2 separate regions of the Homo sapiens genome follow, and region 1 is linked to region 2. Evidence: fine-mapped expression QTL. A gene starts in region 2. The other region holds a variant in brackets. All regions are shown on one strand. Distances are from middle to middle.

Evidence for each region. PIP is the estimated chance that this variant, and not a neighbour inherited with it, causes the effect. A credible set is the group of variants that fine-mapping cannot tell apart.
Region 1: its variant is the best candidate, but not a certain one, in a credible set for the expression of FCHO1 in whole blood (TOPMed, PIP 0.86).

The regions. Positions count from the first base shown.
Region 1 is chr19:17,776,729-17,781,111 of GRCh38, forward strand. It overlaps FCHO1 (FCH and mu domain containing endocytic adaptor 1), which reads left to right. Exons shown (of 29, transcript NM_015122.3): 19 at 1,409-1,500; 20 at 1,881-2,156. Among named protein-coding and RNA genes, the nearest start is that of B3GNT3, 16 kb to the right of the region's middle. RefSeq lists an enhancer at 1-38. The variant T/C (reference allele first, on the strand shown) is at 2,650.
Region 2 is chr19:17,749,286-17,753,668 of GRCh38, forward strand. FCHO1 (FCH and mu domain containing endocytic adaptor 1) reads left to right here and starts at 2,192. Exons shown (of 29, transcript NM_015122.3): 1 at 2,192-2,292. FCHO1-AS1 (FCHO1 antisense RNA 1) reads right to left here and starts at 2,112. Exons shown (of 5, transcript XR_007067152.1): 1 at 1,931-2,112; 2 at 1,373-1,465; 3 at 1-78. RefSeq lists an enhancer at 4,350-4,383.

The sequences.
Region 1 (4,383 bases), 27 kb after region 2:
CCTCCCTCCACCTCCCCATGTCTCCGCCTGGTGTTCTCTTGTCCCGGCTGGGAGTTGACGTCATGCTGGGGTTTTTTTGTTTTTGTTTTTGTTTTGAGACAGAGTCTCACTCTGTCACCCAGGCTGGAGTGCGATTTCAGCTCACTGCAACCTCCACCTCCTGAGTTCAAGCGATTTTCATGCCTCAGCCTCCTAAGTAGCTGAGATTACAGGCACCCACCACCACGCCCAGCTAACTTTTGTATTTTTAGTAGAGACAGGGTTTCACCATGTTGGCCCGGCTGGTCTCGAACTCCTGACCTCAAGTGATCTGCCCACCTCGGCTTGCCAAAGTGCTGGGATTACAGGCATGAGCCCTTGTGCCTGGCCCATGCTGGCTTTTGAGGGACCATTTAGTCATTCATTTGATGAACATTTATTGAGTGCCTGCTGTGTACCTGTGCTGTTCTAGGGTCTGGGTTCTGAGACAGGTCTCCCTTCTCAGAGTCACATTCTAGTGACTCCAGATTTTAAGAATAGCAAATAGGGCCAGGCGTGGCGGCTCACGCCTGTAATTCCAGCACTTTGGGAGGCCAAGGCAGGCGGATCACCTGAGGTCGAGAGTTCGAGACCAGCCTGACCAACATAAAGAAACCCCATCTCTACTAAAAATACAGCATTAGCCAGGCATGGTGGCACATGCCTGTAATCCCAGCTATTCGAGAGGGTGAGGCAGGAGAATCGCTTGAACCTGGGAGGCGGAGCTTGCAGTAAGCCACTGTTGTGCCATTGCATTCCAGCCTGGGCAGCAAGAGGAAACTCCGTCTCAAAAAAAAAAAAAAAAAAAAAAAAAAAGCAAATAAGTTAGAGCATATTCGATACTTCTAAGTGCTACGAAGAAACTAAAGCAGATGACGCGAAGACAGGAGGAGGTGACTTCCCTTGAGGTGGGGTTGGGAACCTCCCTGAGGGGGTGACTTGGAGCTAAGCCCCAAAGAGGAGCTAGGAGGTGACTGTGAAGAGAGCTGGGGAAATGGAACTCCAGACTGGGAACAGGCTGCACACAGTGGCTCACACCTGCAATCCCAGCACTGGCCAAAGCAGCCAGATCACTTGAGGTCAGGAGTTTGGGATCAGGCTGGCCAGCATGGTAAAACCCCGTCTCTGCTAAAAATACAAAAATTAGCCGGGCATGGTGGCAGGTGCCTGTAATCCCAGCTACTCTGGAGGCTGAGGCAGGAGAATCGCTTGAACGCAGGAAGCGGAGGTTGCAGCAAGCTGAGATCGTGCCACTGCACTGCAGCCTGGCCGACAGAGCAAGACTCCGTCTCAAAAAAAAAAAAGACTGGGAACAGCATGTGCAAAGGCCCCAGGGTGGGATGAGGCTTGGGAAAAATAGAAGCAGCCCTCTTGGCCTCACCCTCTCTAGCTGTGCAGAGAGATTGCAGTCAGAGGAGCAGGTGTCCAAGAACCTCTTTGGGCCGCCCCTGGAGTCAGCCTTTGACCACGAAGATTTTACAGGTGATGGGGATAAGGGATTGGAGGGCATGGGTGTGGCCGGAGGGAGGTTGGGTGGGGCCATTGCAGAGTTAGGCCAATGAGGTCCCCTGGAAGCCAGGCTGGAGGGAGGACTAGTCCGTGTAGGGGTGGGCGGGGCCAGAGTGCGCGTGGGAGGGGCCATAGATAGGGTGGGGCCTTGGCCAGTGGGCGGTGACTGAGTGGATGGGCCGGACATTTGTGGAGAGGGAAGTCACCAGAAGGTGTAGCCTTGGGGGCGTGCACAAGGACTTTGAATGGGGGCCCCCCTGACCTTCCCTCGACGTGGCCGTGGCCTGCAGGAGGATGGGCAGGGACTCTGAGTGGGCGAGGGTCGGAGCTGACCGCCCGCTTCCCTCCCCAAGGCTCTAGCAGCCTGGGCTTCACCTCCAGCCCCTCCCCTTTCTCCTCCTCGTCGCCCGAAAACGTGGAGGATTCCGGCCTGGACTCTCCGTCCCACGCGGCACCTGGCCCCTCCCCAGATTCCTGGGTCCCCCGCCCAGGCACCCCGCAGAGCCCGCCCAGCTGTAGGGCGCCACCCCCAGAGGCCAGGGGTATCCGGGCACCGCCTCTGCCAGACTCGCCGCAGCCCCTCGCCTCGTCTCCAGGCCCCTGGGGGCTGGAGGCCTTGGCCGGAGGAGGTGAGTCCAGCGGGCCTGGGCCTGAGAGTTGCTGGAACCCTGGGCGGGGGATTGAGCGCCTGCTTTGGGCAGGGCCTGATCAGGCTGCTGGAGACACAGCCAGGACCAGGCAGGCAGAACCTCCCACCGTTGCAGGGACAACAATGAGATGGACATTTAGCAAGGCAGGCGGTAGCGGGTGCCAGGTGGGGGCCCTCCCTGAGGAAGGGACATCTGAGCTGAGATTTGAGGGAGGTGAGGACAGAACCACGTGGACATGAGGGGAAAGGCGTGCTGGGCAGAGGGCACAGCCCCTGCAAAGGTCCTGGGGCAGGAGCGCGCTAGGCCTGTCTGAAGAACAGCAAGGAGGTCTGCCTGCTGGAACGGGGTGATCACGGAAGGAGGAAGAAGAGAAGGCAGGGACCAGGAAGGGCCTGATGGGCCCAGGGAGGGCTTGTGAATGTTACCCTGAGTAACGCTGAGGGCCATGAGCAGGGGAGGGGCGGGACCTGAC[T/C]CAGGGGTCACAGGCTCCCTCTGGCAGCTTCGGGAGTGAGGGCAGAAACCAGAGACTGGGGAGGCAACCAGGGAGGCAAGTAGGCGATGGGGGTAAGGGTGGCAGTGGGAGAAGCAGGTGGAAAGGTCGCTGCAGGGGAGAGTTCGGAGGAGTAAGGATGGGGAAGGAGCGGAGTCAAGGGAGGGAGGAGGATGGGGAAGGAGCGGAGTCAAGGGAAGGAGGAGGATGGGGAAGGAGCGGAGTCAAGGGAGGGAGGAGGATGGGGAAGGGGCGGAGTCAAGGGAGGGAGGAGGATGGGGAAGGGACAGTCAAGGGAGGGAGGAGGATGGGGAAGGGGCGGAGACAAGGGAGGGAGGAGGATGGGGAAGGGGTGGAGTCAGGGAGGGGTGGGGGACGTCGAGGCTGTGCCTTTAGGTGTCAGGTGCACAGTGGACCCTGAGTGTGGGGAAGGTCAGGTCAGAGCACCCCCTCCTTGAAGACGTCATCAAAACAGGAGGAGCAGCCGCCCAGGGAGAGCAGAGGAGAGGACAGCCGGGGAGCCCAGAGGGGTTGGAGACAGGAGGACAGCAGGAGATGGGGGGAGAGCGGCGGGATGGGCTCCTGGGGGCTGTCTGAGGAGAATGGGAAGCCCCCGAGTCAGAGGGACTGTGGGCTGTGACCACCCGAGGTCCCCAGTAGTGTCAACAAGGGCTCCTGGCACCCTCCATAGGAAAGGGCCAGGCTGGAGCCCGTTCAAGGGAGAGCTGAGTGGGTGGAGACCACAGAGTGGGGGCAGAAGAAGCTCTTTTTTTTTTTTTTTTTTTTGAGAGGGAGTTTTGCTCTTGTTGCCCGGGCTGGAGTGCAGTGGTGTGATCTTGGCTCACTGCAACCTCTGCCTCCCAGGTTCAAACAGTTTTCTGCCTCAGCCTCCCAAGTAGCTGGGACTACAGGTGCGTACCGCCACACGTGGCTAATTTTTGTATTTTTAGTAGAGATGGGGTTTCACCATGTTGGACAGGCTGGTCTCGAACTCCTGACCTCAGGTGATCTGCCTGCCTCGGCCTCCCAAAGTGTTGAGATTACAGGCGTGAGCCACCGCACCCGGCCTGAGTAGAGGCTCTTATCCAACCCTGCAAATTCTGCCCCCCCAGGGGACATTGTCAGTGTCTGGAGACATTTTTGGTTGTCACCACCAGGCAGGAGTGGTGCTCCTGGCATTCAGTGGGTGGAGGCCTGGGTTGCTGCTCAGCACCCTACAGTGCACAGGGCAGCCCCCGCCCCCGAGAATGGTCCAGCCCCCAAATATCCACAGTGCTGAGGCTGAGAAAGTCGGGTAGAGCGGGGAGCACAGCTTGGGGTACAGGTGAGAGGGGAGGTAGGTGGGAGGGGAGGTTGGCAAGCAAGGGAGCACGTTCATAGATGGAACAGAACCAGGACCCTGAGGAAGCAGGAGAGGGAGGGGAGCTTGGGTGTTAAAGGCATGAGACTCAGACACAGACCACAGTAGGTGGCTGCAGTCAGGTTCTCGGAAAGGGTAGAGGTCACAAAATGGCTGAATGTTGGCTAAAAATCCTCTGCTGAACCCCCCTTACAGCATGCCTGCGTCTTAAGCCTTCAGTGCTTGCTTGCATACCCCCAGTGATGGGGAGCTCACCCCTTATTGGGCCACCATTCTGGTGTCTGGGAGGGTTGGGGGTGTGGACAGTATCTGCAGTCCTGTCTGGCACCTTTTCTGCAACACCAGGACTTCAGACC
Region 2 (4,383 bases):
TGTGTGTGTTTTTCCCTTGGTGCCTTTGTTTGTTCTTCTGTGAAATGGGCTGAATTCCTCTGGGAAGATGGGAGGAGTCTGTGGGAGGAGGAAGCTCTGTAAATACAGACATGATTATTATAATATTAATGACAGTATTAGTGCTCTTTAAATCGGGTCACAGCTGACCAGGAGGAGGGAGGGGAAGGGGGAGTCTATCAAAGGCATTGCCTGAGGAGACTCCAGCACCTGGGAAAGTTGGGTACACAGTAGGCATTCAATAGATGTTTGCCAAATGAAGTGAGGAAGAGGGAGGGGACCCATGGGGAGGACAGAAAATTTCTGAGAATCCCTGGCTCAGATTCCCACTTGGTGGCCCGAGTCACTGTGTGACCTGGGGCACGTGTCTCAGTTTCCCCATCGTGGTGCTGGTTGAGATAAGATACTGCCTTGAGGTGTGGTGACGAGAATCAAGCCAGATTGTCTGTGATCGCAGCCCAGGTGGCGAGGCCAAGAGGGGAGACATGACATAGTGGGTCATTGAAACAGCATGGTACCTGCTTGAACCAAGTGACTGGTCCGTGGGAAGGATGAGAAAACCCTTGCTACTGGCCCTACTGTACATACACTGGGGTCCAAGAGAGAGGGAAATGTGAGATCCTGTTTCCCAGGATCCTGGAAGCCAGATCGTGGAAGGTCAGGAGTGGCCCAAGGTCATCAGGCAAGACGTCAGCGGCTCCGGACACCCAGCCAGGCACCACTCGATTCCCAGGATGGGAGCTCGGGTCTTGCCTTTGTTGCTGATGTGGTTCCTGCTTTGTTTTATCTGTTCTGGGGCTGCTCACATGTCTCAGCCCCAGGTTTGCAAGACTTGGTGCCGGGAAGGCAGGATGGGGACCTCTGAGTCAGCTGGCAATGTGCTGTGTAACCTTGGGCAAGTCTCCGGCCATCTCTGGGCTTTGTGCTGGTACTGTACAGGCTGGGAGACTTGGGTTCTAGCAGGGCTGACTTCTCCATCAGACCCAAAATGCCCAGTGTCTCAGGCTCACAGTGCTTTTAGGGGTCCCTAGGTTGATGTTTTCACTTCTTTTAAAATCCAAAGGGAAAAAAATGAACTCTTGGGTTGAAGGAAACATTTTTGTGTATAATATTAATATATTTGTCTTTATGTCAATGTAGTTGTAAAATACAGTTTTGTTTTGTTTTGTTTTTGAGACAGAGTCTCTCTCTGTCACCCAGGCTGGAGTGCAGTGGCTCGATCTCCGCTCACTGCAACCTCCATCTCCTGGGTTCAAGCGATTCTCCTGCCTCAGCCTCCCGAGTAGCTGGGATTACAGGCATATGCCACCCCACCCAGCTAACTTTTGTATTTTTAGTAGAGACGGGGTTTTACCATGTTGCCCAGGCTGTTCTCGCACTCCTGGGCTCAAGCAATCCACCTGCCTCGGCCTCCCAAAGTGCTGGGATTCCAGGCATCAGCCACCACCTAAAATATAATTTTAAATTTCTTTTGTAGTGAAGGAAAGCGCTCATGAATGCAAAAATGTCTTCCCCTTTCTTTTCTTTTTTTTTTTTTTTTGAGATGGAGTCTCGCTCTGTCGCCAGGCTGGAGTGCAGTGGCGCAATCTCGGCTCACTGCAACCTCTGGCTCACTGCAACCTCCACCTCCCGGGTTCAAGTGATTCTCCTGCCTCAGCCTCCTGAGTAGCTGGGACTACAGGCATGGGCCACCACGCCCAGCTAATTTTTGTATTTTTAGTAGAGACGGGGTTTCACCGTGTTGGCCAGGATAGTGTCAACCTCTTGACCTCGTGATCCACCCACCTTGGCCTCTCAAAGTGCTGGGATTACAGGCGTGAGCCACCGCGCCTGGCCATGTCTTCCCCTTTCTGAGCGCATTTCCCTCTCTGAGCCTCAGTTTGCCCAGTCTGTGAAGTGGGTATCGGCCTACCTCAGGATGGCAAGATGTTGAATGCCTGGGCCAGGGTTGGTGCTCAGTTATTTCCCAATTGCCATGATTAATATTTGTTCGGTAAGAACAGCTCCAGGTTCAGGCCGGGGGGCTCCAGGTTCAAGCGCCTCTTGTTTACTCACCCATGGCCTGTGTGGTTCCAGGGAGGTCCCATGGGTGCTGATCGGGCGGGGGAGGAAAGGTGGCGGTTGGATGGTAGGCGGGGCGGGGTGAGCTTCCTGTCCCCCCCCCAACCCATGCACACAAGCCTCCAACTTGGTGCTGACGGAAGTGGCCTCGTGGCTGTCTCCTGGCGCCTGCCCCGTCAGACAGGGGCCCCATCCCACTCGCTACCCTGTCCGGTGAGTTTGAGCCCTGGCCAGTAGATACCCATCATCTCGCCTTGGCCCCCCTCAGGAACAGAGGGGAGGCCCCCCTGCCCGGAGCCTGGGTTTCAGGAGAAGTAGCAGGTGTCACTTCCTGGGCTGGCCAAAGCCTGCATGGGGCCACCCGTTGCCCTGCCCCCCGTCCCCCATTCCAGCTGTGAGTGGTGGTTTGGGTTAGGGGGGCGGCAAGGGGAGCTTGGAAACCCAGAGAGCCACGCGTGATGGTTTCAAACAGGAGGTCATTGGCAGACAGACCAGGGGCAAAATCACAGTCAGCCGGGACCAATGATTGATCTCTCTGTGCCTCGGTTTCCTTCATAAAGTTGGGGTTGCCTCTGAGGGCATGGCATGAAGATTGGATGAGCAGATGCGTGTGAATAGTTGGGTACAGGGTCGCACACATACTGGTGCTCCATGTGTATCTGTCTGCCAGAGGTGGGGTGAGGCAATCTAATTGAAACTGTGAAAACAGTAGTGAGATTCTTGGTTTCTGGGGAACTTGGGCTCCTTGGTTCCTGGGATCTTCTAGAACAATGTTGGCCATCCAATACAGCAGCCATCAGCCCCATGTAGCTACTGAGCCTTGGAAGAGAGGCTGGCACAGCTGAGGAGCTGGGCATATAATTGTATGTATGTATGTATGTATGTATGTATGTATTTAATTATTATTTTTTTAAGACAGAATCTCACTCTTTCAACCAGGTTGGAGTGCAGTGGGGCAATCTTGGCTCACTACAACCTCCGCCTCCCAGGTTCAAGTGATTCTCCTGCCTCATCCTCCCAAGTAGCTGGGACTACAGGTGTGTGCCACCACGCCCTGCTGATTTTTATATTTTTTGGTAGAGATGGGGTTTCACCATGTTGGCCAGGCAGGTCTCGAACTCCTGACCTCAAGTGATCCACCCACCTCGGCCTCCCAAAGTGCTGGGATTACAGGCGTGAGCCACTGCGCCCAGCCAATTGTATTTAATTTTACTTGGTTTAACATTAATACAAAAATTAATACAAAAATTAAGGCCAGGGGTTGTGGCTCATGGCTGTAATCCCAGCACTTTGGGGGTCCCAGGCAGGAGGATGGCTTGAGCTCAGGAGTTCGAGACTGGCCTGGGCCACACTAGTGAGACCTAGTCTCTACAAAAAAAAAAAAAAAAATTTATTTTTAATTAGTTAGACATGTAGTCCCAGCTACTCGGGTGGCTGAGATGGGAGGATCACTTGAGCCTGGGAAGTCGAGGCTGCCATGAGCTGTGATCATGCCACTGCACACTCCAGCCTGGGTGACAGAGCAAGAACCTGTCTCCAGAAAAAATAAAAAAATAAAAAAAACTTAATACAAAAATTATTCAGGCGTGAGCCTGTAGTCTCAGCTACTCGGGAGGCTACTATTCAAGGCTCCCTTGAGCCTGGGAGGTGGAGGCTGCAGTGAGCTATGATCGCACCACTGCACTCCAGCCTGGGCAACAGAGCGAGACCCTGTCTCCAAAAAAAAAAAAAATTAAGTCACCACATGGGGCTAGTGGTTCCCATGCCAGTCAGCACAGCTCTAAGAGATTTGGAGATGCTTAGGGTCCTGGTCATGGACAGAAGCTAAGAAATGATATGGAAATTTAGGGCTTTTCCCCTAGGGATGTCAGTGTAGCATGCTCACCACCCTACCCCTGCCACCAAACTAGGTTTCCTAAGGGGGTGTGGTGGGGACTGAAGTTTTTCAGGGGCCCTGTCATTAACCAGTGCAGGGTTGGGAATGTTTGTTGAAACAAATAATTCCTTGCCCAGTGAACTCCTATTCATGCTTTAAAACCCCAACTCCCATGAGCCCTCCTTTAGTCCAGGTTCTTTTGGACCTTGTCCCTCCATCTGGCCCAGCCCTGACCATGCAGGACGGTGATATCTGTGTCCAGCTCTGTCTCTCTAGACTGGGGACTCCTGCAGGGCCAGGCCCGAGGCTGAATCAACTCAGGGACCCTGACATTGTTCTAGTCTGGGTGAGCAAGTAGGAGGTCTTGGGTGACTCACAGAAGTCCCGGGATTGGAGGCTCAATGATAATGGGTCCAATTAAACTAACT